3 separate regions of the Homo sapiens genome follow, and regions 1 and 3 are each linked to region 2. Evidence: fine-mapped expression QTL. A gene starts in region 2. Each other region holds a variant in brackets. All regions are shown on one strand. Distances are from middle to middle.

Evidence for each region.
Region 1: its variant is fine-mapped to the expression of MAN1A2 in lung (TOPMed, PIP above 0.99). The same link has a PIP of 0.9 or more in left ventricle.
Region 3: its variant is fine-mapped to the expression of MAN1A2 in skeletal muscle (FUSION, PIP 0.95).

Annotation. Positions count from the first base shown.
Region 1 is chr1:117,549,464-117,560,614 of GRCh38, forward strand. It overlaps the pseudogene VPS25P1. Among named protein-coding and RNA genes, the nearest start is that of TENT5C-DT, 51 kb to the right of the region's middle. The variant G/A (reference allele first, on the strand shown) is at 4,543.
Region 2 is chr1:117,363,658-117,374,279 of GRCh38, forward strand. MAN1A2 (mannosidase alpha class 1A member 2) reads left to right here and starts at 3,792. Exons shown (of 13, transcript NM_006699.5): 1 at 3,792-4,828. The coding sequence starts at 4,527. RefSeq lists silencers at 48-107, 3,028-3,847 and an enhancer at 4,718-4,857.
Region 3 is chr1:117,453,314-117,464,464 of GRCh38, forward strand. It overlaps MAN1A2 (mannosidase alpha class 1A member 2), which reads left to right. Exons shown (of 13, transcript NM_006699.5): 7 at 7,176-7,299. Among named protein-coding and RNA genes, the nearest start is that of MAN1A2, 91 kb to the left of the region's middle. The variant G/T (reference allele first, on the strand shown) is at 5,199.

The DNA.
Region 1 (11,151 bases), 190 kb after region 2:
ACATTACAGCTGAACGTGGCCACTTGGCAGAAGCAGCTGGCCACCTGGTGTTTGTTGGTTCTGTCCATCTGCTGCCTGCACAGACAGTCAAGCATGATGGTTATGGATGCTCAGGAGATCCTGCTCTTCAGCAACATCAAGCTGTGGAAGCTTCCTGTGGGATCAATCCAGGTTGTATTAGAGGAACTGAGGAAGAATGGGAACTTACAGTGGCTGGATAAGAGCAAGTCTAGTTTCCTAATCATGTGGCGGAGGCCAGAAGAATGGGGAAAACTCATCTATCAGTGGGTCTCCAGGAGTGGCCAGAACAACTCCGTACTTAGCCTGTATGAGCTGACCAATGGGGAAGACATAGAGAATGAGGTGTTCCACGGACTAAAGGAGGCCTTCTGTGGGCTCTGCAGGCCCTTCAGTAGGAACATAAGGCTGAGATCATCACCATCTCACTCGGAGACCAGTGATGGCTGAGGTGTCAGGTCCATCTGTCAGAGACCTGCTTCCTTTTACTTTCTATCTCCCACCTTTCCAGGGCTTTCAGGAGGAGACAGACTCGGTGGACCCACACATTGAACCTGTGAATCCACCAGACTCAAAAGGGCTCCAGTCCTGAAGCCTGGGACCCAGGGGTGGGTTTCTCATACACAACATGTCTGTCCCTGGGACAGGGTGAGGCTGAGGCACTCCAGAGAAAAATGCTTCTTCAAAGCTTGCCTACTTCCTTTCCTATCCTAGACTGCTTCTGAGCCAGGGTCTGTAAACCTAACACTTTATGTGTGTTCACATATGTAAGTTCATACACACATGCACCTGCACATGCTTCTGTCTCCTCCATCTTCTATCCCCTTAGCTGCTGTTGCCTCCCTTCTCAGGCTGCTGCTGGATCTTTCCTAGGGAATGTGGGAAGCCTGGCTGCAGGCAGCCATCCAAGCAATAGAAAGATAGGAGGCCCATGGGCCTGGCACTGACAGGCAGGGCCCAACATTGATTTATGTTATTAAAATCTCAACTGCCCCCACTTCAGACAATAAAAACTGAGCTATATGCTGCTCACAATAAATTCAGTTGAAATATAATGATTAGAAATGTAAAAAGTAGTAAGAAGGAATAAGGTACGCCATGGAAATACTAATCAAAAGAAAGCAGATATAACTATATTAACATCCAAAGCATGACAAATCATATCTCCATTGCATAAAAGAATATAATCAGGAGTGTTTTTAAATATCTTTTTATTTAATTTAATCTGGAATTCATAGCTTGAACAAATCTCAAAAATCCATCATCTTTTTTTTTTTTTTTTTTTTGAGACAGTCTCACTCTGTCGCCCATGCTGGAGTGCAGTGGCACGATCTCAGCTCACTGCAACCCCCATCTCCTGGGTGCAAGCAATCCTCCTGCCTCCGCCTCCTGAGTAGCTGGGATTACAGGCACCCGCCATGACGCCCGGCTAATTTTTGTATTTTTTATTAGAGACAGGGTTTCACCATATTGGTCAGGCTGATCTTGAACCCCTGAACTCAGGTGATCCACCCTCCTCGGCCTCCCAAAGTGCTGGGATTACAGGCATGAGCCACCTCACCCAGCTAAAAATCCATCATCTTTAATTACTGAAAATTTATCATAGTCTATTGCAACTCTTTGAACAAGTATATTATTTACATTTTTATCCTCCAAAGACTCAAAACTAAAAAAACTTAAAGAACTCTTGTGATGTCTGTTACTTTGATATTTTATCAGCAAGAAAAATATGTGTTTTGTTTACCTCAGTTTTTTCTAAAATTGTGAAATGTATTATTTGTATCTTTGTTATGTCTACATTGAAGATGATTAATCATGGATGATGTTGTACATGGTTTTGGAGTTTTTTCTTTTCATGAAATGTTGAGAGGGCAAAGCATATCCTCACAAGCTGTGACAAATTTTTTTGAAATACCTTCGGCCTAAAGGGAAATAACAAAAAGTTAAATATAGTTATTAAAGTTTATTTTGTTAGTGTTTTGAGTGCTAGTACCTCAAACAATTCTATAATGATGTGAATTATGATATAATCTAATCTTTGTTATTCTTTCTTGTATCATTTAGTTTTTAATTAACATTTTATTCAAAAAGGATATGAAGTTCTTCCTATGTTTATGTCACGAATCCACTCTTTTTTAACCTTCAAATCAACACTCTGTTTCCTATATATTCAGCTATTTGGCTGTTTTTAATAATTGTTTTCATATGTAAAATTGCTCATTACTTTTTATAGCATTTCAATTTTTTTAATAGTTTGAGGGGGTACCGATGCAGGTTCGCTTCATGGATATGTTGTGTAATGGTGAAGTTTGGGTTTCCAGCGTGTCCATCACCCCGATAGTAAACACTGTACCCAACAGGTAATTTTTCAACCCTTACCCCCTCCTACTGTTACCACTTTTGAAGTCCCCAGTGTCTGTTAGTTCCTTCTCTATGTCCATGTGTACCCACTGGTTAGCTCCCTTTATAAGTGAGAGCATGTAGTATTTGATTATCTGTTTCTGAGTTATTTCACTTATAGTAATGGCCTCCAACTCCATTTATGTTGCTGCAAAAGACATAATTTCATTTTTGTGGCTGTGTAGCACTCCATCGTGTGTGTGTGTGTATGTGTGTGTGTGTGTATATATATATAAATACAATTACCACATTTTTTATCCAGTCATCTGTAGATGGACACTTAGGTTGATTCCATGACTTTGCTATTGTGAATAGTGCTGCAATAAACATATGAAAAACTATACCATGCAAACAGAAAACAAAAATGAGCAGGAGTAGCTATATTTATGTCAGATAAAACAGACTTTAAATCAATAACTGTAAAAAAGGACAAAAGTTATTATATAATGACAAATGGTTCAATTTAACAAGAAGATATAACTATCCCAAATATATATGCACCCAATACCAAAGCACCAAGATCCATAAAACAAATACTACTAGACCTAAGAAAAGAGACAGCAATGCAATAATGGTGGGGAACTTTATCACCCCACTGACAGGACTAGACAGATCATCAAGGCAAAAAATCAGCAAAGTCTTAAACTGGACTCTAGGCCAAATGGACCTACCTAATAGACATTTACAGAACATTCTACCCAACAACTGCAAAATATACATTTTTCTTATCTGAATGTGGAACATTCTGGAAAATAGACCATATTCTTGGCCATAAGGCAAGTCTCAATAAATTTTTAAAAAATCATATGAAATATCTTTTTAGACCACTGTGAAATAAAATTAGAACTCAATATCAAGAGGAGCTCTCTAAAGTATTTGAATATATGGAAACTAAACAAGTTGCTCCTGAATGATCTTTGAGTAAATGATGAAATTAATACAGAAATTAAAAAGATGGAAACAAATGAAAAGAGACACAACACACCAAAACTTCTGGGATATAGCAAAAGCAGTGCTGGAAGCTTATAGTGTTAAATGGCTACATTAAAAAGATAGAAAGACCTAAAATCAACAACCTAATGTCACACCTCAAGGAACTAGAAAAATAAAAACAAACCAAACCAACAGCTAGCAGAAGAAAAAGAAATAGCAAAGATTAGAGCAGAATTAAGTGAGGTTGAGACAAAAAAAAAAAAAAAAAAAAACATGATATGAAGGATCAATGAAACAAAAAGTTGGTTCTTTGAAAAGATAAACATAATTGATAGACCACTGGCTAGACTAGCCAAGAAAAAGAGAGAGAAGATTCAAATAAACACAATCAGAAATCATAAAGGTGACATTACAATTGATACCACAGAAATACAAAAGATCAATTGAGACTACTTTGTACATCTCTATGCTCACAAACTAGAAACCCTAGGGGAAATGGATACATTCCTGGAAATGTACTACCTTCCAAGACTGAACTAGGAAGAAATAGAAATCCTGAACAGACCAATAGCGAGTAATGAAATTGACTAGTAATAAAAAATTTCCTGACCAAGAAAAGCCCAGGGCCAGATGAATTCACAGCCAAATTTTACCAGATGTTCAATTTTTGAATAATACAAATGCATTTTGTGTTTGGGAGTACATGTTCAAGTAACTGATAGATTTACAATGTATAAAGCACACAAGTAGATTCTCACTCCAAAAGTCATCTAAAGTGACTACTGATATTTGAAGGTGAATATTCTAATATTAGCAATAATTTGAATGGTGTGGCTTATTCACATTACTGATGATTCAGCACTAATTAGATATGGTGGTAACCCTGAAGGTCACAAGATTATTGATTAGTAAAAATTTATAGATGCCAGAAATTATGTTTAAGTATGCATTTGGCTTTTTGGCCTTTTTAAGGCTGAGGCTTAATACCAAGGCCAGAATTGAACTATATGCACCCTATTCATACTATGCACCATTTCTTAGGAGGTCTTTTACCAAAACAAAAGTATAAACCAAGAAAGTGGCTTCACATCTCCTATAGGTTCTGCATCAATCAAGTTAGTACTAAATTATGCCTTGCTTTGCTTAATATTTTTATTATTTATTTTTAGACAGGGTCTCACTCTGTTGCTA[G/A]GCTGAGTGCAGTGGCAAAATCATGCCGTATTGCAGTCTCAACCTCCCTGGTTCAAGTGATCCTCCCACCTCAGCCTCCTGAATAGCTGGGACTAAAGGAGCATGCCAGCATGTCTGGCTAATTTTTTGTATTTTTGTAGAGACGGGGCTTCACCATGTTGCCCAGGCTGGTCTCGATATCCTGGGCTCAGGCAATCTGGCTACCTTGGCCTCCCAAAGTGTTGGGAGTACAGGTATGAGCCACTGTACCTGGTCACTGCTTAATGTTTGTATAACTTAAACCTACCAACCTATTAATCTCTTTTAAAACTGTAAATGTGTTGTGGGCAGAAACCTTATCTTAGTTGTGTTTTGCCTCTTTAATTTTATAGGGAAATAATGATAATTTGGTAATTTTCCTCTAAGGATTATTTTTTTATTATTATTATTATACTTTAAGTTCTGGGATACATGTCCAGAACATGCAGGTTTGTTACATAGGTATACATGTGCCATGGTGGTTTGCTGCACCCATCAACCCATCATCTACATTAGGTATTTCTCCTAATGCTATCCCCCCACCAGCCTCTCACCCCCATAACTGGCCCCGATGTGTGATGTTCCCCTCCCTGTGTCCATGTGTTCTTATTGTTCAACTACCACTTATGAGTGAGAACATGTGGTGTTTGGTTTTCTGTTCCTGTGTTAGTTTGCTGAGAATGATGGTTTTCAGCTTCATCCATGTCCCTGCAAAGGACATGAACTCATCCTTTCTTATGGCTGCATAATATTCCATGATGTATATGTGCCACATTTTCTTAATCCAGTCTATCACTGATGGGCATTTGGGTTGGTTCCAAATCTTTGCTATTGTGAATAGTTCTGCAATAAACATATGTGTGCATGTGTCTTTATAGAATGATTTATAATCCTTTGGGTATATACCCAGTAGTGGGATTGCTGGGTCAAATGGTATTTCTGGTTCTAGATCCTTGAGGAATCACACACTGTCTTCCACAATGGTTGAACTAATTTACACTCCCACCAACGGTGTAAAAGCGTTCCTATTTTTCCACATCCTCTTCAGCATCTGTTGTTTCCTGACTTTTTAATAATCACCATTCTAACTGGTATGAGATGGTATGACCTTTTGGTTTTGATTTGCATTTCTCTAATGACCAATTATGATGAGCTTTTTTTCATATGTTTGTTGGCCGCATAAATGTCTTCTTTTGAGAAGTGTCTGTTCATATCCTTTGCCCACTTTTTGATGGGGTTGTTTGTTTTTTTCTTGTAAATTTGTTTAAGTTCCTTGTGATTCTAGATATTAGCCATTTGTCAGATGGATAGGTTGAAAAGAAGAAGATATGTAATTCAGGAAACAGTTTCAACTTAAGAGACAGAAGGAGAAAAACTCAAAATGACGGTGAAAGGAGATTTCAGGATAACAGCTGTGTACGAAGTATAGATGTCAACCAGTCCAGAGTGGAGTATGGTCAAATGGATCCAGAGATAGAGCTCCAGGAAGTGGAAAATGATGGAATACCCTCATTTATTTGAGTGATTGAGAGGAGTTTTCAGTGGATAGGTGAAAGCTGGGGTTGTATCAGTGATAAGTGTATAGAAAACTATATGAGATGCAAGCTCCCTACATCTCTTGTAGCTATTCTTGAAGCTAGGCCAACTAGCCATTCCTTCAGAGTTTTTCTCCTTCCGTCTCTTCCAGGGTTGGATAAAACACTACAGCACAGGGTGTGAGATCTAGGATCTCAAGTGGGCAGCCCATGAAGGGACTGGGTTAATGCAATCTAGAAGTACAAGGGAATACATTCACATGAGATGAATTTTACCAAACAAGAATCCAGAGACAAGAAGGAGCCTGGAGGACAAATCACTTTTCTTCTTTTCTTCTATGGTGGACATTGAAGCATGATTTATTCTTGCAACCCATCTGGAGAAGTCTCGGGTGCCAAATGAACAGACCTGCTGAACAACCCGCTGTGTCACTAAGTGGTTCTTTATGCAGCAGCAGCCAAGTGCAGTAACATGTCATTTTGCATTGCTTCACGTCTTTATTTGCCTCCCTTCCTTTTTCCTCAACCTCAGTGATCTGGATTTGCATCTCCCAAATAGAGTAACAGCACTTTAATTTTTGCTTCAGACTCTACTTTTTAGAGGCTAAGATTAAAACTAAGCAAATAATTAAAGAAGAAACTTCAAAGAAAACTAAAAGTAGGGCAAGAAAGAAAAAATAATAGGGTGGCTAGTATTATTATTATTAGGCTCAGTCCTTAATAGAGTTTAGTAGTAACATTAGAAATATTAAATATCCAACAATTGAGATATAGCTACACTGGAAGAATAGGGTAAGGGAAGAGATATTGGTCATGTAGTAGTGGTGGTTAAACAGAAATAAATCCTTATCTTCACTAGTAAAAAGTCAATTAGACTGAAAAACCAAAAAAGTTAAAGTTAAAAAAGAAAAGAAAACTAATGGAATTGAAAGGATTTCCCTCTTGAGAAAAGGAAATAGGGAGTTGATAGTTCCTCTTTTTTAAGTCTTACTGAATTAAGTCTGACTCTTCTATCATTTAAGTCTTACTGAATTAAGTCTAACTGACTCTTCTATCATGTACACTTATAACATTGATTTTAAAAAACACATTTCAAATGCTAGTTACTGATGAAGGCATGTGGTTTTATTGTTGTAAGCTATAAAATCAAACTAAGGTAGATATTTAAACTCTGAAGAAACTTCAGTTTTGTGAAGTGACTGCACATTTTACACTTCCTCTAGCTATGTATAAGATCTTATCCTAGCTGTTCCACATCCTCTCCAACATTTATTGTTGTTGATCTCTTTTTATTTTAGCATTTGGTATTGTCTTTTTCATTTCCGTCATTCCTGTTGATATGTACTGATATCTCATTGTGGTTTTAATTTGCATTTTGCCTAATGCCTAATGAGGTTGAGCATTTTGTCATGGGCATCATGGGCTTACTGGCCATTGGTCCCTCTTCTTTTATGTTCTTTTTAATTGACTTGTTTCATTCTTTAGTTATAGGAATCTTTATGCATGCACATACAAGTCATTTGTCAATGTTATGTGTTGCAAATATTTTCTCCCAACCTGTAACTTAAGTATTTTCTAAATTGTGTCTTTTAGTTAGAAAAATTTTTAAAATTTTGCTGAAATTGCAATTTAGCAATTTTTTCTTTTATGGCTAATATTTTCTGAATCCTCTGGAGAAAATTTTTTTCTTCTCTAAGGTCATGAAGACATTCTTCAGTGTTTCTTTCTAGTAACTTTCTAGCTTTTCCATTTAGGTCTGTGGCCCATTTATTGATGTGATTTTCCTTTCCTCATGTATCAGTATTCTATGCTGCATAACAAATTACTACAAATATAGTGATGGACAACAGTGAACATTAATTATCTCACAGTTTCTGTAGGCAGGAGTCCAGGCACAGGTTGGCTGAGACCTCCACTCAGGGCCTCACAAGAATAGAATCAAAATTGCCATCGGTTTTTGTTCCTTTCCAGAGCTTGGGGTCCTCTTCTATGCTGACATGGTCGTTGGCAGAATTCAGTTGTGGCTGAGGTCCCACTTTCTTGATGGCTGTGAGCAAGGGGCTGCTCTCAGTTTCTAGAGGCCCCTGTAGCTCAAGGGAGAGTCTCTCATTCCAGTTGGCTAAGATGGAGTCTTATGCAAAGTAACATAATCATAGAGGTGACATCCATCACTGGTGCCGTACTCTGTTGGTTAGAAATAGGTCATAGATCCTGCCCACACTCAAGAGGAGAGGGTGTAGAGCCAGGAGGCAGAGATCATAAGGACCATTTAGAATTCTGCCTACCTCACCCCATCACATTTCCCATATGACCTAGTACTTCCCCTCTGTATTAGTTCATTTTCATGCTGCTGATAAAGACATACCTGAGATTGGGCAATTTACCAAAGAAAGAGATTTACTGGACTTACAGTTCCATGTGACTGGGGAGGTCTCACGATCATGGCAGAAGGTGAAAGGCACATCTCACATGGAGACAGACAAGAGAAGAGAGCTTGTGCAGGGAAGTTCCCCCTTTTAAAACTATCAGATCTCATGAGACTTATTCACTATCATGAGACAATACGTGAAACACCAGCCCCCATGATTCAGTTACCTCCCACTGGATCCCTCCCACAACATGTGGGAATTCAAGATGAGATTTGGATGGGGACACAGCCAAACTATATCATTCTGACCCTGGCCCCTCCCAAATCTCATGTCCTCACATTTCAAAACCAATCATGCCTTCCCAACAGTCCCCCAAAGTCTTAACTCATTTCAGCATTAACTCAAAAGTCCACAGTCCAAAGTCTTTGGACAAGGCAAGTCCCTTCTGCCTATGAGCCTATAAAATCTAAAGCAAGCTAGTTACTTCCTAGATACAATGGGGGCACAGGCATTGGGTAAATACAGCCATTCCAAATGGGAGAAATTGGCCAAAACAAAGGGGTTACAGGGCCCATGCAAGTCCAAAATCTAGCAGGGCATTCAAATCTTAAAGATCCAAAATCATCTCCTTTAACTCCATGTCTCACATCCAGGTCATGCTGATGCAAGAGGTGGATTCCCATGGTCTTTGACAGCTCCACCCCTGTGGCTTTGCAGGGTACAGCCTCCCTTCTGGCTGCTTTCATGGGCTGGCACTGAGTGTCTGTGGCTTTTCTAGGTGCATGGTGCAAGCTGTCAGTAGATCTACCATTCTGAGGTCTGGAGGATGGTGGCCCTCCTCTCACAGCTCCACTAGGTGGTGCCCCAGTAGGGGGGCTCTGACCCCATATTTTCCTTCCACACTGTCCTAGCAGAAGTTCTCCATGGGAGCCCTGCCCCTGCAACAAATTTCTGCCTGGACATCCAGGCATTTCTGTACATCTTCTGAAATCTAGGTGGAGGTTCCCAATCCCCAATTTTTGACTTCTGTGCACTCGCAGGCTCAACACCGTGTGAGAGCTACCAAGGCTTGGGACTTGCACTCTCTGAAGTCATGGCCTAACCTCTACATTGGCCCCTTTTAGCCATGGCTGGAGCAGCTGGGACACAGGTCACCAAGTCCCTAGGCTGCACATAGCACAGGGACCCTGGGCCCAGCCCATGAAACCACTTTTTCCTCCTAGGCCTCTGAGCCTGTGATGGGAGGAGCTGACATGAAAACCTCTGACATGCCTTGGAGACATTTTCCCCATTGTCTTGGGGATGAACATTCGGCTCCCTGTTACTTATGCAAATTTCTACAGCCAGCTTGAATTTCTCCTCAGAAAATGGGCTTTGCTTTTCTGTCACATTGTCAGGCTGCAAATTTTCCACTCTGCTTTATGCTCTTTGTGCTCTGCTTCTCTCATAAAACTGAATGCCTTAAACAGCACCCAGGTCGCCTCTTGAATGCTTTTCTGCCTGGAAACCTCTTCCGCCAGATAGCCTAAATCATTTCTCTCAAGTTCAAAGTTCCACAAATCTCTAGGGCAAGGGAAAAATGCCACCAGTCTCTTTACTAAAACATAACAGGAGTCACCTTTGCTCCAGTTCCCAAGTTCCTCATGTCCATCTGAGACCACCTCAGCCTGTACTTTATTGTTCATATCGCTATCAGCATTTTGGGCAAAGCCATTCACAACAAGTTCCTCATCTCCATCTGAGACCACCTCAGCTTGGACTTTATTGTCCATATTGCTATCAGCATTTTGGGCAAAGCCATTCAACAAGTTCTAGGAAGTTCCAAACTTTCCCACATTTTCCTGTCTTCTTCTGATCCCTCCAAACTGTTCCAACCTCTACCTGTTACGCAGTTCCAAAGTCGCTTCCACATTTTGGGGTATCTTTTTCAGCAATGCCCCACTCTACTGGTACCAATTTACTGTATTAGTCCATTTTCACACTGCTGATAAAGACATACCCAAGACTGGACAATCTGCAAAAGAAAGAGGTTTATTGAACTTATAGTTCCACGTGGGTGAGGAGGCCTCACAATCATGGCAGAAGGTAAAAGGCATGTCTCACATGGTGGCAGATAAGAGAAGAGAGTTTGTGCAGAGAAGCTCCCCTTTTTAAAACCATCAGATCTTGTGAGACTTATTCATTATTACGAGAACAACATGGGAAAGACCTTCCGCCATGATTCCATTACCTTCCACCAGGTCCCTCCCATAACAAGTGGGAATTCAAGATAAGATTTTGAGGGGGTGGACACAGCCAAACCATATCACCCTCGTAGGTATTTACCCAAGAGAAATGAAAGCATATGTCCACAAAAACCTGAACACAAATTGTCATCAGGACTTTGTTCAAAATAGCCAAAAACTATAAACAACTTGTATGTCTAACAACAGAAGAATGGAAAAGCAAACTGTGATATGTTCATGCAATGAAATACTAGTTAGCCACAAAAAGGAATGAACTGCCAATATACATTTTGATATAGATGAATCCAAAAAATATGCTGGGTGAAAGAAGCTGGCCACAAAAAAGTACCCATGATATGAACTCAATTATATAAAGTTTGAGAAGAGGTAAAACTAACCTATGATGATAGAAATCAGATCAGTGGTTGCTTAGGAGGTAGAATTGACTAGGAGGGGGCATGA
Region 2 (10,622 bases):
TTGTGAGATTAGGGCCAGGCAAGCTATTTACTGGACGAGTAGAGCAGGAAGTGTTCTGCGTAAATGGCAGGAAAAACCAGCTATGGGTGCCTGCGCATGCTCTGCTCCCTAGGCTGGAGCACGACCCTTCTCTTATGGTTCAAGGCTCAGCTCAGGTGACACTGGATTGGGGAACTTTCCCTAACTTTCCCAATCCACCTCCTCTCACTCTGTGGCACCTTCAGTGTTCCCATAAAGCCCGTGACACTTTGCTCCAACAGCATTCTTCCCACTGTCTTGTAATCGTCAGTGTTCATCTACTCCTCCACACTAGACTGCAAGCTCACTGAGCATAAGGATTCTGACTTATTTCTCCAAATCTCCAGCACCTAGTACAGGATTTGTCAAATAGTAGTCCTCCAACAAATGAGTCTTTTATAAGCAAATGAGCCTCACGTACTTTGGCTCAGAGAAGCAGCCAAGATTTTTTGGCTTTGCCGACTTTCACGGATCTTACTTGAGGGCTTCACAGCACTGAACTTCAGTTTATCCCTGACCTCTGAGGAAAATGCCTCATAGAGGAAAGCAAGATTGGAAGGAGCAAGGCTGAAGCCTGTTATTTCCCTACACATTCAGTGGTCACGTCGAGTAATTTCTCCTCCAATATCTTCCTTGTACATTTTGGGCACCAGTTGGAACAGGTTACATAAGTAAATCAAAAGCCTCTTTTTGCATACCAGCTTTTATTTTTTTCCTGTAGCACTTCAGTTTCACTTAAAACAGAGCTAGGGGTGTATGTGTGTGTGTGTGTGTGTGTGTGTGCATGCGTGTGTGTATAACAGGTGTGAAATGGTTTCAATAATAGAAAAGTCAACACATGGTTGAACAAATACAAGTAACTTCCACATTGCAATACGAGTGGATCTTAGGAGTGGTCCTGTAAATCTGCAGGAGTAAATTTTGTTAGTAATTTATTAATTCTAATTTCTAAAATATTAATTTATATGGATTTGTAAAAGGGAAATCATCACTTTGGAATCTCTGATCAAAGGGTAACTACTCTTTGAAAATGAAATATTCTTTTTAGACTCTCTGGAATGAAATCCTTCCCTGTTGTACGTGTACACACACATACACACATACATAGAACAGGCTGCATACTGTTTCTGCCGATTGCCTTCAGATGGGCCGGTCTGTGTGTTCATCTTGATACTACCGAGTCTACCTATTTGAAATTTGACCTTAACTTTTTCAGGCACCAGTTCCTTTATAATTTTTATTTAATTGTAAATATAATGCAACAGAATACAATGGAGAAAATCATACGTAAAACCAGTATCTTAACAGAATAGTTGCAATCTTTTTCAAATATTCTTTTTCTATGTTTTTAAGTGCATATAATTATAATTAATGGATACATTTGCAACTTTTTTTTTTTTAAACAACATGATTCTTTAAAAACTCAGACTTGCCTTTAGAAGAGTGGATATATGTAATACTATGTATACAGTATTTTCATTGCTGGTGTAGGAGTGTGATAACTGACGGTATCATCAATGACTTTAAAATTGCTGGCTGCATTTGGACATCTGCAATAACCCCTAAATTGTTTTTACTCTCATGAAGGAAAAATGAATTTTGCAAAACAGACAAGCAAAGGAAAAGGGGTCTTCTCCATCAGCAATGAGGTCTTACTTGCTTAAGCTATACTTGTCAACTAGGTTATGTCAGGTTTCATGATTGAAATCTCTTGTGGTTAAGTCTAGTGTTAACCTAGGTAATATTTATTTTTCAAGATTTATATAACTTGCTATTTCATTCAGAGTTCAGTATTTATTTCCCCTGAACTTTTCATGGAAACTAATGATCTCAACAGTAGGAAAACAGTGTGTTCTTCCCCGCCTCCCCACCGCCCCCCCCACTTTGGCTTACGGAGTCTCAACATTAGAGACTTATTCTTAAATTTGGCACATTTTATAAAGACATATTGGGAAGGCTAAAAGTTTCTTATATCTACTCTTCACAAATGTTCAACATAAATCTCACTAGGGACCGGGCACTCCTTGCTTACCAGTCTCCCTGGGTGAACTGGTGAGAGGTGGCCCTCAATATTTTTACTTTTTATTTGGTGAAGCAGGATCAATGACAATGACTTTTGTCATGTGGTAGGCAGTTAGATATGCAGAGCTTCTAGAAATAATGCAGACTGGGAGACTGGAATGTAGTTACAAGTGTGCCAATGAACATGAGACTTTTCTGCTTGATTTTTAAGCTAAGGCTGACTTACTCTCCTGACATTTAAGGGCCTCCTCTCCAATTCCCAGTCATCAGTAAAGGATGTGTACAGGGAATGACAATATTAGAACAAAAACAACCTGCAAGTAAATCGGATGCAAGAGTCTATGTATCTTGCAAGGAAATCTTTTGCACTTAATCACAACATGGCTCTCCTCAATACTACGGAGAACAGAATTGATTCAGATTGTTTTTAAGCCTGAACGTAAACAATATTGTCGCCTTTTTGGGTTTCAGCACCTCCTTATTCATCCATTTTCTCTTTTATGGGAAGGGGGTTGATGAGGTGTGTGAAGATGATAGAACGTGCCCCAGAAACTGAACAATGAAGAGACGCCTGTCATATCGGGGGTACCTAGATTCCTCTGAAAGGAAGCCCAGCTGAAGGAGCAGGGTCACCACTTTATTTTAAAAACGTAACATGGCACATGTTGGTGCTCTATTAATCGAGCCTCGGGGGCCCAATAACGTGAGCATGGGCTGCTGCGTGGAAGTTTGAGACCCTGTTGCTGAATCCTCGGGCCTGACGGTCTATCGCTGAAGACAAGACTTCCAAAGAATCACAGTAAACGTTAACCTAAGCCATCAGAAGCCATTAACTCCGGTGACACTACATTTCAGCGAAACCTTCGCGACCCAACCCCTCGCTCCCTCTCGCCCAAACGCTGGGTCAACCCCACGAACTGGCGGTGGCAAGGCCCTGGGCACCGGTGAAGTTCTCGTGGCAGCGCAGATCGGCGACCTTCTCTTCTTTCGCGCTCAGACGGCGGCGGCAGCAGTACGCTTTCGGGCTGCTGGAGCCGGCAGCGGCGCGAGGCCGGAGCCCGGGCAGCCAGGCTGGGTGGGGGAGGGGCGGCGGCAGCGGAGCCGGGAGCGTGCGCGCGCACCTCACACTCCGCCGCCCGGGGACGCCCACTCGCGAGCCGGGGCCGGTAGGCCGGCCCGGGTCCCATCGCCCCCGCCCTCCGGTTCCTCTCCGGCGTGAGCCCAACGGGTGTCGGCCCAGCAGCTGCTGCGCTCACCAGGCCTGGGGAGGCAGGGTACGGGGACCGGGCCGCAGCCCCGAGCGGCGTGGGCGCGCTGCCTCTCTGGCAGCCGCCGCCAGAGCCAGCAGCTGCGAGCCACCGGAGGCGGCGCGGAGGAGGCCCCCGCGGCCGGGCAGGAAGGAGACGCGGCCGACCTCTGCCCGCCCGAGGCGCGGCTGCTCCCGCGCGCCCAGGCCCTCCCGCCGCTCCAGGGCTGAGTGAGGAATGAGCCGGCGCCTACCCCGGGCTCTCGGAGCGTGGGCCCCGGCTCGGCTTCTTAGGCGCGAGGGCTCGGCCACTGCGGCCGGCGGCCTAGCTCGGGGAGCAGGCGCCGGGGTTCACTGAACCGGCCGCGGAGAGGAGGAGGAGGAGGAGGAAGAGGAGGAGGAGGAGGAGGAGGAGCTCGGCGGGGGCGGCCGCCGCGCCTCCCCTCCCCCAGGACACGCCGGGGCTTCTCAGTGGCCGCCGGAGGAGGAAGTTCCGCTCCCTGACAGACCCGTGCGGTAGCAACAGCGGCGGCGGCCGCGGCGGCTGGCCGGACTCAGGTGTTTCGGACGCTATTGCCCTTCGCGCCAGCCGTCGAGTGGGCAGCAGCGGGACTCAGCCGGGCGCCAGGTTCCTGCCAGGCAGCGCCGGGAAGCGCGGGCGGCCGAGAACTCCTTCCTGCTACTTCGCCCAGCGCCGCTGCTTCGGCTTCCCAGCGAAGTGGGAGACCTTCCTCCCTGTTTGCAGACGTCCGTGGGAGACCCTTATTTTTTCCACCGCTAAGGTTAAGAGATTCTGGAATAGAAGCGTCGAAGGAGATCAAGTGAACCTTCTACAACTCCTCGGATGTCGCCAGTCTCCCTTTCGGGGCGGAAGACTACGTTTGAGCATCTCACTGAGGTGCAGGAATGGAAGAACCCACCTTGCAGCTTTTCTGCAGTGTGGCTTGCCTGATCTACCCCTAGGAATGAAGAGGAGGCTTGTAATAATCCGATGAAGTACAGATGTTGAAGAGGATATCGCAGGACCTAAACTTGTGATCGTTTGGGGGAGGTCACACACGTTTCTGAGTGGGAATGGATGGGCGTGAATGACGTGCCCTCTTAAAAAGCACAACAGTCCTTTAAGAGGAGCAAAATTGAGTTTTCCCATTTTGGCCAAGATTTTGAAGACAGTTCAATGTATTCTACATTTGACATAAGATGAGAACTTTCTAAAGTATTCTCTCCAAGAGCGTAAACGATGACTACCCCAGCCCTGCTGCCCCTCTCTGGACGTAGGATACCACCTCTGAACCTGGGGCCGCCTTCCTTCCCACATCACAGGGCTACCTTGAGACTTTCTGAGAAGTTTATTCTTCTCCTTATTCTTAGTGCCTTCATCACTCTGTGTTTTGGGGCATTCTTTTTCCTTCCAGACTCTTCAAAACACAAACGCTTTGATTTGGGTTTAGAAGATGTGTTAATTCCACATGTAGATGCCGGTAAAGGGGCTAAAAACCCCGGAGTCTTCCTGATCCATGGACCCGATGAACATAGACACAGGTTTGTTTATTTCAGAAGTTCTGGTACTAACATTTGGCAGAGCAAGGTACGGTGATTGGATCGAATCTGTCTTTTTTTTTTCTTGCAGTAAAATGTAATTTTTCGAGTCATAAATATTGTATTGTTACTTCAAGACTGGCTGAATAAAACCATAGACTGGAGGGACTCTACCTCCAGTCTATGGTAGAGTCCATAGACTGGTAGGACTGGAGTCCTACCTAAGTCGTTCTTCTCTTCGGTTTTATATAAGAAAAACATTTGCGTTCAGAGTTGTGTCTAATGTGGACATCTGGGAAGGGAGGTATGAAAACTTAACCTAAAGAAATGGTGACATAAGCTGTGCCTGCATTTATTAATAACGTGTTGGAGTCAGTCATTGTGCCACCATGTGAAATCAAAGCATCGAACCTTGACAGCTCTTTTGGGTGTGCTCTCCCAGAGGGCTCTCGTTTTCTGGCTTGTAGTTGAAGCTTAGTAGTGAGTCAGCTTTTTAGGATGACAAACGTGGGCAGAATATACCTGTCATTTCTTAACGTGAAAATATCCTGATTTTTGTTCTTTTTTTGGGGATGTGTGTTGGTGCTGTATATGAAATCAGTTAAGTTAAAAGGTATTGAATCCTAAGTTATTGCACTTTGTGAGGCTTGTAGACAAGATTTATTTTTGTGAAACTTAATTTTGCTCTCTCTTTTAATGTAATAGATGGACTGTGTCAAGCAACTATTGGAATTTGGTTGATTAAGGGGTTCACATTCTTTCAGATCACTAAATCTAAAGTGAGCTCTGGGGAGAGCATAGCCAAACTAGGATAAAATGGGAGCTCTAGTTACAATTTTTATAATTTTTATATTTGTACTCAAGAGTTTGGGAAAGTAGTTGACTTTTCTTAAACCTGCCATCTTTTCCTTGTTTCTTAAAATAATTCTTGAGTATGTGGGAAAAAAAATCATGTGCTTGAATTCATTTCCCATCTGATGATAGTTTTAACTTTTTGTCAAGCACCGAAAAAGCTTAGGTTCACGTGTAAGCCTACATTAAATATTTGGGAAAATGCACTGTTTTATGAGAACTGGTTTTTCTTTTTTTCTCAACCTAGTTAATTCATTACTTGTGTGATGGTTCTTTGACTTTTGGATGAATTTTATGGAGTAGTTACTTCTAATATTGTTTCATGCCATTCTTTTGTAACTAAGTTAATTTGGAATTTTTGCCATTTTCGACTACTGTACTCCTGTATTTGTTTCTTTAATTTTGCACTTTGCTTGTTGTGACTTTAAGAAAACACTAATATGATCTGTGAAATATGTTACTGAAAAATTAACGGTGAAAGTAGTTTTCCTTGAAAATCTTATTTCGCATGGTATTTGTATAACATATGAAATATATTGAAAAAATGTGTTAAGGCTGTTTTTAGAGCTGTTTCACAACAGCCACACATTAACATTACTTAGCTCTATTATTAATAGTATCTGTCATGTACTAAGCAGTTTAAAAAATACATTTTGAATGGTCTAAAAGTTTAAAATAATATGACCACATTTTAGTTTAAAAACATTTACACAAAAATTCTCAGTAAATGGAGTTAAAATATGAAATTTGAATGAAAATACAGATATGTGCCTTTTATTCACATTTTTAACAGTCTGTATAAATAGTTTAAACAAGAATTCTTAAATTTATGAAGCCCTTGGATATATATGCATATGTATTTAGCTATCTAAAACTATTGGGTTCCTGAGTTTGGAATGAGAGATTGGTTATTGTTCTGATAGCAGGGGTGGTTTGTGAGCCATGCCCTGAGTTTTGGCTAGTAAGAGTCTGGATAGCAAGTGATACATGTGAGTCTGGATAGATTCCAATGCAGTTTTTGGAATCTATTCGGTTCCTGAGTTTTGGAAAACGAGAATTCAAATAGAGTTCAGGTGGCAAAGGATCCTTGTGTTATCTCTTTGTATTTCTGTGGTTATATCAGTTGACATTTGCTTTAGCGTATTATTTGCTGTTGTTTACTATATCAGAAAAGAGTCTGTAGTAATAAACTTTCTTTTACTTTGAGCAAGGAAATACTTTTTAAATTAAGTGTATGTTTAAAATGTGGAAACAGAAAACATCAAATGTATAAACATTAACTTATTTAAAAATAATTCAGAAAAATAGCACTTTTACAGTTGGTACTAAGATCATATGTATTTTGGGTATGGGTCAGAACTTACCTAATTTAGAAGAAACAAATTGACAGTTTATCTTCATTTAGTGTGTGTGTGTGTGTGTGTGTGTGTGTGTAAGGGTACAGGATAGAGGGCTGAGGAATGTTACTTTAACTAATAAGTAATGGAAAATAAGTCATGGTCACCATTTCTTATTTGCAGTACTTAAGAGATACTTGTTTAGTTAGTATTTCTTTATTAATAGATTAGTATAATAATTTGGTGTTTAAGTTCTGGAGTCAGACTGTATAGATTCATACCCTAGCTTGCCACTGATTAGATTTATGATACTGAGAAATTTTAAAACTCTATATTGTTTCCTTTGTATCACAGTGGCATGTATCTACTTTACAGATTGTTTTATTGAAAGAGATAGTACATGCAAAGCACTCAACATAGTTCCTGGCATTTAGTAAATGATCAATAAATGTTAACTATTATTATCATCAGTGATTATAATTGTAATGGAATATTTTTATTCGGAATCTACTTTCCTTTAAATACTGTATATTTTCTGAAAAGTAGGGTACAGTTTGATTAATATTTAGAAGTATACTAGGATCTTATTGTCTAAAGGAACATTTTATAACCAAACTGGTTGGCAACAAATGTATGCCTACTGTGGCAGGCCCCGCTTTCATGAAACTTTCAATCTAGGGAGAGATGATGGGCATTAAATAAATAATTTTGTTTTTGAGGTGTGATGAATGTTACGAAGTTGTACTCAGTGCTTTCAGAGCAAGGAATGTGTGACCTAGTCTATAGAGTTGGGGGTGGAGGGGCAGTGGGAATAAGGAAGACTTCATTGAGAAAGTGTGCCTCAGAAACGTAGAATGAGTAGGAGATTGCTTAATGAAGTGGAATTGGAGGTTGAGGGGAGGTTGAGGGTCAAAGCAGAAGACACAACATGTGTGAGAGCCCTAAGGAAAAAAAGCTTGGCATCACTAAGAATCTGAGAAATGTTAAGTATGGCTGTTGCAGAGGGTGTGGGTCTGGGTGATGAGACTAGATGAGAGGTCAGGTTTGGCCTGCTTACAAGTTTTTTGGCCTCCTTATTGTTGTTACAAAAGTTTGAATTAGTTGTCAGCATTCACAGATCAGGAGATTTCATGTTAAAGTCTGGATTTCTGATCTTTCTTGAAAAATTAGAGGTTATGGCAACATCCAGTGTATTTTCAGATGGTAATATTCAAGCCACAACCCAGTAGCAGCTGCTCCCTTGGGAGGGGGACGGGGGCGGGCATGTGCCACTCAGAGTGCGAAATAAGTAAATACAAATCAATCAATATTTAACCTGGTTGTTGTTGAGTTTGCAAATTCTAGTCAGGATTCTAGAGAGTTTGTAGTTAAATATTTTGGTTTTTATCATAAATACTAAGAGAAGTTATTGAAGGATTGTAATAAAAGCAAGGGAATGACATGATCATTTTAAATTAAAAAAATTAAATAATCACTTTGGTTGCAATGATTACTTACTGGATGGTAAGAAGCAGGAGGATAACAAGTTAAGAGGGGCTGGGTCACAGAGGATATATTGGCTTAGATCGCAGTGGTGATAGTGGAGAATGAGATAAATTAGTGGAGAAAAGTGGTTGAGTCAAGAGGTGTTAAACTATTAAGTTTCACAGAAAATGGTGGTTGGTTAAATATGGGGCCAAAATAGAAAGAAAAGTGAGTCCAAGATAATGTCTAGGTTTCTGGGTGACATGGCCATGGATTAGTAAGAAATACATACTATATTTAATTAATGCCCTAATTTATAGATAATAGTGGTATTACATGAATTTAGTATATTTTCATGAGGAAACCAATATGTTCCCTTCTATTAAGTAGTTCATAAATAATCCAGAATTTTCAAACACTGTAGATACACTTTATAGATGATAAGGATATATCAAATGTGTAGTTTGGTGTTGATTATGGTTATTTATAGTATCTATGATTTTGCAGTACCCAAAACCAGAAGTTGTTATAATATACATGTTGTTATACGCTAATATACATAAAGTAATATACGTAAGTATACTTTGTGTACATAATAGATCTCAATAATTAAAAACTTTTTTTTTTAAAACTGACATTTGTTTTATATAATGGCATTTATAGATGGGCTTTGTGAGTTAAAAAAAAAAAAACCCAGCTTATGAGCTGTTTATCTGAATAGCTAATAAGTTTCACCCTCCAGTCAGAACTTTGTTAGTCTGAATTGAATACTTGAGGGTCAGGTATATGTTTACCTTTGATACTTTCCTCAAAGGCATTGGAGTTATAAATAAGGCTGCATCTTAGTTCTACTAACTAGCTGTGTGGCATTGTGCTAGACGTAATCACTCAAACCTGTGCGCTGTCCAGTACCATAGCCACTAGTTATATATGACTATTGCACTTAAAATGTGGCTAGTCCAGGCTGCAGTGTGCTTTAGTGAGTTTCTCAAGTTCTTCATGTTATGATTCGTGTTTTTTTTTTGCTTGATTCAGTTTTGTTACAAGAGTAGAGATTTCAAATCTCACTATTGCAATTTTAATTTTCTTGTCATCTTTCTTTGTCTCATCCCTCTTCTGGACCTTTTTTTTCTATCCTGTTTTTTATTTGGGGCTTTCTGCTCCTGTTTGGGCGACGTCACATTGTTTTATGCACTAATATTAAAGTCTGCTGGATGTTCCATTTCCCTTATAAATTGCTCATGGTTATTTTTCCCACTTCCCTTTACTCAGACATGAATTATTGTGAGGTTTGTTTGTATTTGACGTTTGTCAACAACAGACTGGTGTAGATGCCTTTGCTGCATTTGTTTTTTTTTTTTTTTTTTGGGTACATTCTGTGGTCCAGGCTGGAGTGCAGTGGCACAATTACAGTTCACTATAGTCTCAAACTCCTATGCTGAAGTGATCCTCCTGTCTTAGCCTTCTGAGTAGCTGAAACTATGGGCATGAGTTGGGACTACAGGTGTGAACAACCATGCTAGGTTAAGTTTTAATTTTTGTAGAGATAGGGTCTTACTTGTTGCCCAGGCTGGTCTCAAACTCCTGTGTTCAAGTAATCCTTTTACCTTGGCCTCCCAAAGTGTTCGGATTACAGGTGTTAGCCACTGCACCCAACCGAATCTTATTTTTATCGATATGGATACTTTCAAATTGGAGCTCATGCCTAAGATTGGAAAGTTGGTAATGCAGAAGCTAAGTATCTTCTAGAAATCAGTAGTACATGGTAAACATTAATTGATTTTTTTTTTTAAGTGAAAGCAAGTTTATTAGAGGAGGAAAGAAACAAAGGATTATAGGCAGAGCAGCCAATTTATTTTTAACTGGGCAAATGTTTTGTTTACTATTGTTTGAAAATTATAGAATATTTAACTTATGTGGGAGGTGGAGGTGGGAGGATTGATTGATTGAGGCCAGGAGTTTGAGACTAGCCTGGGCAACATAGTGAGACCCTGTCACTGCACATACTCGCACATGCACACAGCTGGGCATGGTGGTTGGTGCCTGCCTGTAGTCGGAGGCTGAGGTGGGAGGATCACTTGAGCCCAGGAGTTCGAGGGTGTAGTTAGCTATGATTGTGTCCGTGCATTCCAGCCTGAGAGACA
Region 3 (11,151 bases), 90 kb after region 2:
CTCTGACAGATCTCAGCAAAGTAAATGGAAAATCTTCTGGAAAGGAGTCACTATTCTAGATGCCATTAAGAACATTTGTGATTCATGAGAGGAGGTCAAAGTATCAAACAGGAGTTTGGAAGAATTTGATTCCAGTCCTCATGGGTGATTTTGAAGGGTTCAAACTCAAGTGGAGGAAGTAACTGTAGCTGTGGTGGAAATAGCAAGAGAACCAGAATTAGAAGTGGGGCCTGAAGATGGGACCAAATTACTGCAGTCTTATGATAAGACTTGAATGGATGAGGAGTTGCTTCTTACAGATGAGCAGAGAAAGTGGTTTCTTGAGATGGAATCTATTCCTGGTGAAGATGCTATGAACATTGTCAAAATGACAATAAGGATTTAGAATACTACGTAAACTTAGTTGATGCAGCCAGTGTCAGGATATGAGAGTGGCCTCCAAGTTGGAAAGAATTTTTACTGTGGACAAAATGCTGTCAAACAGCATCACATGCTACAGAGAGATCTTTCGTCTTGCAGAGAAATCAAACAGGAAGAATCAATCAATACAGCAGACTTTATTGTTGTCTCATTTTAAGAAATTGCCCCAGCCACCCCAGCCTTCAGCAGCCACCACCCTGATCAGTCAGCAACCATCGTCATCAAGGCAAGACCCTCCACCATCAAAAAAGAGTATGACTTGCTGAAAGTCTCAGATGATCATTTGCATTTTTAGCAATAAAGTATTTTTCAAATTAAGATATGAACATTATTTCCACATAATGCTGTTGCACATTTAAAAGGCTACAGTATAATGTAAATATAACTTTTATATATACTGAGATACGAAAAAGTTTGTGTGACTCATTTTGTTGCAATATTTGCTTTATGGAGGTAGTCTGTAACCAGGCCCATAATATCTCTGAGATATGCCTGTTTTTAAAGAAGTAATGTCTAGAAATTTTTCAGATTTGTTAAACAGCTGTAAATTCACAGATTCCAACATTTGATGGAACCCAGCAGGATAAATATAAAGAAACATGACGTCTGAAAATCTGTGACTAGAAAAAGAAAAGTTAAACAGCCAGAGAAGAAAGGCATTTACATTGGGGAACCAAAATAGAAATACTTCCTTCTTATCATAAGCAATACAATCCAGAAAACAATCGAATCCATCTTGAAAGTGTTGAAAGAAAAAAGTCGATCTCAAATTCTATAGCCACTGAAAATATTCTTTAAAAACAAAGGTGAAATTAAGACATTTTCAGGCAAACAAAAGCTTAGAGAATTTATTGCCAGCATACCTGTATTGTTAGAAATTTTAAGGAACTTTCTAATGACAACAGATGGAAAAACAGATTTACACAAAGAAGGGAAGGGCACTGGAAGCAGTAAATATTTGAATAAATATAAAAGGCTTATTTTTTCTGTTTTGGTCTTTGTTTAAAGCAAAAATAATAACTCGCATAGTGGGGCCTATAGTATACATAGGAGAAAAATTTGTTACCACAGTAGCACAGAGGATAGTATGGAGACGTGAAGCCCTTACATTATATGTGAAGTGGTATAATATATAAAGGTCTACTGTGGGAAGGTTAATGGTTTATGTTGTAATGCCTAGAGCAGTCATAAAAAAATAAGCCGGTAAAGAAAATGGAATACTAAAAACTACTGAATCCAAATGAAGGCAGGAATAGAGAAGGAAACAACTAATGGGAAAAATAGACAATGAAAAGGCAAGATAGTAAACTTAGGTTGGTAGGATGTAAAATGGTAGAGACACTTTGGAAAACAGTTTGACTGTTTTTCAAATGTTTATCACATCAATAGGATATAGGTAAATAGTTGTCATATTCATCCAATGGAATACCATTTAGCCATAAAAAGAATCTAACTGCTGAGACACACAGCAATATGGGTGAATCTCAAAGACATGTTGAGTGAAAGAGCCAAACACAGGAGCATATACTGTATGATGTTTGTATGAAATTCTAGAACATGCAAGACTAATCAGTAGTGAGAGGAAGCAAATTGAGAATTGTTTGAGACTTGGTGGAGGAAGTGTGTGTGTTGATTGCAAAAGGGATAAGGACATGTTTTGGAAGGATTGACTTGGTTTGTATACCAGTCTTTGTTTTCATTTGTCATAACCCATTGAATGGTGTACCTGAAAGGATGCATTTTTGTATGTAAATTATACGTCAGTATATACTTAAAAAGAAAAATAAACCAGATCCTACACTTGGCTGAGGGGCTGTGTAATAACAAAAAATAACATTACCTTATAATTGAAGGACAATCTTAACTTTGAAAACATATTTAGAAAAAAGTTTGTAAAAATACAGAATTAAAATTAGAAGAGACCAGTGAGTATTTAAAATGTAATAGACAACTCAAATTATGCTTATGCAGTTTTCCAGAAGGATAGATGAGAATGTGTTAACAGATTGCTTTGGTACTGAGAGTGATTGGAAGAGGTAGAGGGCTTAGAGAGATACTTTTTTTTTTTTACTTTATGCTTTTTCAGTGCCATTTAAATTTTAAATCATGAGTATATTACATATCCTCTCAAATTAAATGAAAATGTAACAAAAATCAGACTTCATTTTAAAATAAAAATTAAAGCTGTTATATTCATCTGCTGTCAAACAAGGAAGTTTTTACTTAAAAAATTTTTAAAGCATCTGCTATAATAAAAAGGTGAGAAGAAAGCCATTCTTACATTTCAGCTTTACTTGTAGACTAGTGTATTATCTGTCAAAAGCCCTTAAAGCTTGTTTCTTTTGACCCAGCAATTCAACCTTTGTTAATGTGCCCGAAGAAATTGGATGTATGGACTAAGGAAGACATCTACAAAATTATGTTTATCACGGCGTATTTCACAAAATCATAAGTACAGGTTGAACGTTCAAGAGTAAGGTCATTTGTTAAGCAAATTTGGTAGTCCATAAGGTAAAACAATATGTTGCCACATAAATGATATCATAGATAAAATATTTACAGTATATTAAAAATGTTTTATAAGCCAGATTATGGCATCATATAATGAGAATGACCATATAGTGTGTTGTTCATAAGAGTACAATTTAAGAATGAATGGGGGAGCTGAAATAATTAAAACTATTTAATTTTCTGAGTATTTAATCACTGACAAATTGGTTTTATTTTATTGGGTATCCTGTAAAATAATTCTGCTATAAACCTATTTTCTAAAATGAAATTATTAAAAACATACATTCTTGTGTATTTATCTAAATTTGAAATTATTGGCACTTTCAATTGACTCTTGTATGCTTTTATTAGAGAAGGTATTCTCCCTACAGTTGCTCAGAGCAAATTCTGCTTAATTTTAGGATATTCTCAATTCTAAATTTTTGCATATTAAAATGTTTAAATATTTCAGACCAGATATTTTTACAAATCCCATTCTTTTGCTTTCATTCAGAATACCTTCCACAAATCTGAGATATTTTTACATTGACTTTTATTTGTAATTATTTTAAATAATCATCCAGTTTAGATGATACAGAATCATAGGGCTTCTCAATTTCATTCCATTGAAGTATACAATATAAATAAATCTAATTGAAAATAGGAGCTCCATCAAACCATTATTCCTACAAATGAAGATACTTCAACTTAAGCTTACACATTGAGTGTTTTAATTTCTTCAGTTCATTCTTTGCTTTTGTCGGAATGCATTTCAATATCAGTGTGTTTGCAAGCTTTGTTTCTAATAATTGCAGTTTACTGAAAGCTTTACTCCATTCTTTCAATACATTGATTAAATATATTCGACTGACTTTGAACAAAATGCAAACCAAAATATAGAAGACTCATTATCAAAACAATTTAATATGATTGTAGACCACTTAGGGTGATTTACTGTCAAGAGTTTACCAAACATTTTTAGAATCTTTCCTTTTGCTGGTGGTCAGGTAAGAGAAACATACGTTTTGCTTGCTTGTTTTTGTTTTTTGGTATTCATTGCAAATTTTTTGTTACTCAGGTTCTCTGAGTATATACGTAAATTTTAGTATCCAGACCTTTTATTTTGATCAGTTGAGAAAAAAACATAACATTTGCATGAAATGATGATCCGGTTATTTTTTGGCAGCTCATCATCATTTTATAGTTGGAAATTTTGTCCTCGGCAGCATTATATCTTGTTCTTAGGGATTTTCTTATTTTTCTGAGTTGCTAGGATATATGTAAGTATCAAATTTAATATTTTAGATTCTTCCTGTGACACTATGTAAAAAATTTAAAAACCTTATTTAGAATTTAGTATTTTGAAAAGTGTTACTTTTTGACTTTTGGCGAGATGTTCTTTTTATAGAGAATGGCAAACTGTTGGACTTCCTAAGTTTTGTTTTTATACTTGACCACACTATAATTCATCCGCTATGCTGAAACCTAGTTAATCTTTCTAAATGGTATGCTTTATTCCTTAAGTATTATGTTATAATCCTTAAAGTTATTCATGACTTTCCATCACACTTAAAGACTAAAATTTTACCATGGCCTACAAAATTATTTCATAGTCCAGATTATACCTTGCTTTCTAACCTCATCCTGTGTCATTCACTTCCCCTTACTTTCTGAACTCTAGCCAAACTAGCCTCCTTCCTTTCCCTCAAGGCCATTACATCTGCTGTTTCCCTTACTGGGAATTCTGTTCTTCCAGATATTTTCATTAGTGGCTCCTCATCATTCAGGTCTCAGTTCAAATCATATCATTTTAGAAACATTTTCTCTGAACATAATATGTAAAAAGCCTTTTTTGTAACTCACTTTCTATCTCTAGTACTCAACATTCTATTTTTCCTTTTTAATTTTCTTCACAGCAACTATCACTATTTAAAATGATCTTATTTATTGTAGGAGCAGGAATAGTATATGTCAGGTTCACCACTCTCTCACAGCATAGTAAACACTTACATTTGTGAAATGAATTACTGTCTTATGTAGTTACTATATCCATATTTATTCTTTGATTCTCACTTCTAGCTATAAAATATCCTAGTGGTATTTGCCTTCCATATTTTCAGACAGTTTAAAAATAGCACCAAACAATGAAGGAACTTTAAGCAAGGTTGTGATATGTTCTTACATCTATTTTAATGTTCTCTAAACACAAATAAAATATAACATATTGAATTGACAGAATACAAGTGAATATAAGATGAGAAATATATATATATCTATATATATATATA[G/T]ATATATATATATTTTTTTTTTTTTTTTTGAGACAGAGTTTCGCTCTTGTTGCCCAAACTAGAATGCAATGGCGCAATCTTGGCTCACTGCCACCTCTGCATTCTGGGTTTAAGCGATTCTCCTGCCTCAGCCTCCTGAGTAGCTGGGATTACGGCGCCTGCCACCATGTCCGGCTAAGTTTTTGTATTTTTAGTAGAAATGGGGTTTCACCATGTTAGCCAGGCTGGTCTTGAACTCCTGACCTCAGGTAATCTGCCCACCTCGGCCTCCTGAAGTGCTGGGATTACTGGCGTGAGCCACCGCGCCTGGCAAAAATATTTATATTTATACTTCTCCCAAAAAATAAGACAAGATCCTAGAGAATGGTCTAGAGTTCTTGTAGGAATAATCCAGGAACTCTGCTGCTTGAATCATCTAGACTTCCAGTTCCAACCAGGAAATACTGTTTATCAGACTACCCTTCTACCAAAAGCAGTCATGAAAGCTAGACAAAATATATAAAACCAAATGGTTTGAAGACACTGAAATGCAATTAGGTAGAGCTTGAGGGGCTGTGATCCTAAGGTCATCGCCATATAAACATTGGCTTTTTCCCTGAGGATATGTTCTAAAACATGTTCAGAGCAATAGAGGCCATATCTAAAGTGGCAGTCATTTCGGGCAGAGGAGACAATGGTCAGGCCCCAGAGCTGCTAAAATGACTGAAACATAGGGACAAAATCTCATATAGAAAGAAATTGCAGAGGAAAAGCCCAAAATTTATGGACAAATTTCCCTGAAGTCATTGGTGATTCCATAACCACATATATGGGGCAAGCAAGACTCAAAGAAACCCAGCAGAAAATAGCAGAAGAAATTTAAGGGCTAAGGAGGAAATTTAACAGCCACATGCTAGTGGGGAAACAGAGGTTAGGCTGCTTAGGTGCCCTTGGTAAATACCCCTGGCTTCCAACTGAAATTCCCAGGGCCATTTCTGGAAGTTGGGGTAAAAACGGAAATGGACTATTTTTAACAAAACCTAAAACACAATGTAATCTGCATTTACTCAGTCTGTGTTCAGAAGAAATTTAACCTTTTTAGAAGATAATGTCATTCAAAGCCTCTACAATTTTTCATTTTATGTAGTTTGCCTTCAGATAAAAAATTACTAGACAGATTAAAAAAATAAAACGCAAGAGCATATTCTAGAGATTATATCTGCACAAATGAAATGTTTATGAGATTATTCACTGAAAAATGTTCATGGTAACAAAATATTGGAAATAGCCCAAGGGACCATCAATAGGGAATTTATTAAATTGTGTATATTTATGTAATATATTAATTTTCACACAGGCACTATCATCGTTTGGTGCAAGCCAGTTCTTTATTGTATGATACTGTCCCGATCATTCACTACAGGGCAGTTTATAACTTTGGACCTGGCACAATAAGTGGAGGTTGCACATTCAAATTTTGAGACAACTCAAAATGCTCCCACACATTTTCATGTGCCTCTAGGGTGGGGCATTCCACTTGAGAATCATTAATATTATGGAATTCCGTACAACTGTAAAAAAAAAAAAAAAACTGAGAAAGTTGTTTATGAACTGATATGGAAAGACCACCAACTTGCTATGTTTTGTTTAAGAAAGGAGGACAATGAGCATATATATTTGGATTGCCTACATTTGCATAAAACATTCTGTAGTAATATGTAAGAAACGAATGAAAGTGATTTTCTGTGGAGCCTGATGAGGTGAATGGAGATGAGAATGGGTGAAATGTATTTACTGGATTTAAAAACTACTGTTTTAATTTTTAGAACATGGATTTATTACCTATTTAAATTTTTAATACAATTTTAGATATAAATAAGCTATCGTGTCAGATATAATAATTTATAAGAGATCTATTTAAAATTTACATATTCATTAAACGAATGTTTTGGTCTTTTCCCAATCCTGTGTCTCCTTTTACTTTTCCTTTTCATTCAGTGGAGTAGGGCGAAACTGGGGCTGGGCATCTGCAGGTAGCAGCATTCTGGCTGAATTTGGTACACTACATATGGAGTTCATCCACCTCAGCTACTTGACAGGGGACCTGACTTACTACAAAAAGGTTTGTTTTCTTGCCTTCTATTCTTTGTTTGTTATAAAGAGTCCTTTAAGATTGGCCCAAAGATTTGATTAATGCTTAAAAGGTTTGCCTTTCTAGATATATGTTTATTAGGGCTGTAGCCTTTATTTTTTCTTTTGAAGTTACTCAAAGAAATGTCCTTTCTATTTAGAACATATTTAAAATATGTATTGTTATTTGAGAAGTTATAACCACTGTTACATTTTTCAAAAATTTCACTGCTATTTTTATGCAGCATTGTGCTGCGGTACCTACCCAGCCTGGTAAGACAAGAAAAACAAAATAACCAGATGTTTAGGAATTGAAAAGGAGGAAAGAAAACAGTAGTTATTCACAGATTACGTGATTATTGACCTAAGATATTAAGACAGTCTATATTTAAATTACTAGAAATAAGAGTTTAATATGTTTTTTTAAATAGATGATCAATATGGATGTTAAAAATCAGTAGCATTTCTCTACACCAGCTACAAAAGGCAAGAAAATGTCATTTTGCAAAAAGATATCTTATGTAATAGAACAAAAGTATATATGTTTCCTACAAATAAATCTAACAAAAGATAAAGTTCAAATTTTTACTCAGCCATGGAAAAGAATGAAATCCTTTCATTTGCAGCAATATGGATGGAACTGCTGGAGGACATTATGTTAAGTGAAATAAGCCAAGCTTAGAAAGACACGTATTATGTGTTCTCATTCATATGTGGGAGCTAAAATAAATTGATCTCACGGAGGTAGAGAATAGAATGGTGGTTATCAGAGGCTTGGAAGGGTAGTGAGGAGAGAAGGATAAAAAGGGGTTGGTTAGTGGGTACAAAAGTACAGTTACATAGAATGAATAAGATCTAATGTTTGATAGCACAATAGAGTGACTATAACAATGATTTGTTGTATATTTCAAAATAGCTAGAAGAGAAGACGTAGAATGTTTCCAACAGAAGAAATGATAAATGTTTGAAGTGATGGATGTTTCAGTTACTCAAATTTTATCATTATACATTATATGCTAGTATCAAAATATGTATAACTCTTTATATCCATAAAAATTAAAAATAAAAATTTAAAAATACAAAACTTTATTAAATGATATTGAAGAGGATATAAATAAATGGAGAGATATCGTATTTATATATAGGTAAACAATATCATAAAAATTTCAGTCATCCCCAAATTGATTTATAGCATAAATTCAGTGCCAATAAAATCTCTAATGGCCTTTTTCCTCCCAGTGGAACTCGAAAAGACACTTCTAGAATTTATACAGTAAAGAAACATTCTAGACACTTGTGAGGAAAAACACACTGGCTGGATTTACATTGCCCAGTTATCAACATTGACAGTATAGTATTTGTTAATAGGGACAAACAGACTGACAAACAGAATAGATAGCTCTTAAACAGACCTACATATATGTAGAAACTTGTTTTAACAAGTGTCGCACTGTGGATTATAATAGTTAATTCCAGGAATATTAAAGGCTTAACTTTAAAATATAAAACCCTGACACTTTGAGAATAAAAAAATATATGCCCTTGGGGTAAAGAAGGATTTTTACAATGGGAAACAAAAAATATTACCTAGTAAAAATACCCTGTAACCCAGCAATTCCATTATTCGGTATGTACATTTACATTGTATACGTAGAAGCATTGTTTATATTGGCAATTTATATAATAAAATACAAAATAGTAATGAAAAATGAATTATGTTTATATCTGTTAGTTAAAAGAATATGATACAATTTTTATAAAGTTCAAAACAAAGCTGAACAGTATATTGGTTAGGGATTCAAAATGGTTTTGATAAATTGTTGAAGTAAAAATAATATATAGAGATGAATCTCTAAATTAAATGTTTTATTTGGAAGCACAGAACTCCAATTCAGGGCATACACACAGAGTAGGGTGGTTGGTCCTCAGTACATCCAGAGAACAAAGAGAAGGTTGGAAGTTTTATTAGAAATGTTATGTATAGTTTTGAAAGGAAATGTGTTGACACGAGTAAAGCTTCTAGAAGCTGTCTGGCTCTGATTGGTGATGGCAGTAGATAAAACTATAATCTTAGGGTTATAGCAGCTGAGCTTGTGGAAAACGTAATTTTTGGAGCTGGTGTTATGTGCCGCAGGTGATTTTCTGCTGGGCCCCTTGACTCTGATTTAGTTGGGTATGACAAGAATGACCCAATTCGTATAATTTGCTTTCACAAAGTCAAGATAATGACAAATATGAAACTCAAGACTACAGATACATCTGGGATATGGGGAATAGTATGTGAATGGGCAGTGAACAGACCATCAAAGGTGTTCGTAGTGTTGTATTTCTTAAATTGAGATGTGAGTAGAGTCGAGATATATATGTATATTCCTTTCTGTGTATGAAGTACTTCATCAACAGAGAAGAATTTTCAGGAAAATGGAACTAGATGACATAATTTTCCCTGTTCTGACTAAATAAATAATAAAAATTAAATATTTTTATATTAATTATGTTAAAAATTATTTTTATATCAATTATATTAATAAAAATATTAAAGACAGTACAAATTCATCAAAGGCAATAAAAGAAGGAAAAAATGTAACTTCATGTCATATTTGATAACCAAAATAAACAAAAACGAAAAGATTTCTGATTTCTGGAATGAGACATAAGTCTGCTTCCTACCGTATCCTGAAACCTTTCTGGGAAAAGAGAGTCAGCCAACTCCTAGTATTCCCTATCTGTCTTGCCAGGGAGACCAGTGCCCAGGGCGTCAAATATGTAATTGCCTACAGCTCCAGCAGAGTTCTCACCTCTCATCCTTCCTGAACACATAGGCTTCAAGTGATCAAGTAGAAGTACACTAGTACTCCAGATCTCAAATTGTATCCAAGAAGGGAGAAACACACACATACACACACACACACACACACGAGGAACTCAAGGAGAAATCAACAAAGTTCAGGTCAGAACTGACCCTGGTAAATGTGAACAAGATAAAACAGAAAGCATGGCAATTGTGCAAACATACTGCTAGAAACAAAAGCAGAGTGGTATATAGCATGTAGAAGACTGATAAAGAATCCAGTTTCAAATTTTAAAAACAGTAAAAAAAAAAAGTCACCATGAGTAATTCATACCATAATAGAAATTAAATTTAACAGAGTTAGAACTCAGAACCAAAATAAAACAATAAAGTGATACAAAAATATTGTGGAGCTAAAGAAACAAGCTGAGACCTAAAATGATGTATCCCCATAGCTAATGGAAAACAACAAAGAACTCGTTGCACATAGTTAAAAACTGAATTACTTACATGGAATAAAAGCAAGAGATAGTCATAGTCAAAACAAAGGAAAAGCAGAGATTAAAAAGATAATAGATTTGTAAAATAAACATAATTTAACGTATGGGCCTTCCTGAAGTAGAAGACCTAAATCATAGGAATTAACCTAAAAGCTGCAAGAAGAAGAAACACTGCTGGGCACAGTGGTTCACACCTGTAGTACCAGCACTTTGGGAGGCTGAGGTGGGTGGATCGCTTGAGCTCAGGAATTCGAGACAAGCCTGGGCAACATGGTGAAACCACTTCTCTACCAAAAATTAGCCATGTGTGGTGGGGCGTGCCTGTACTCCCCAGCTACTTGGGAGGCTGAGGTGGGAGGATCACTGAAGCCTGGGAAGCAGAGGTTGCAATGAACTGAGATCGAGCCATTGCACTCCAGCCTGGGCGACAGAGCAAGACTCTGTCAAAAAAAAAAGAAACAGAACACTGCAAATTCCATTTCTAACAAAATTAAGGGATACTTGATGCTTCATAACACCAAATAGGAAGAAAAGTAGGCATATAAGCAGTAAA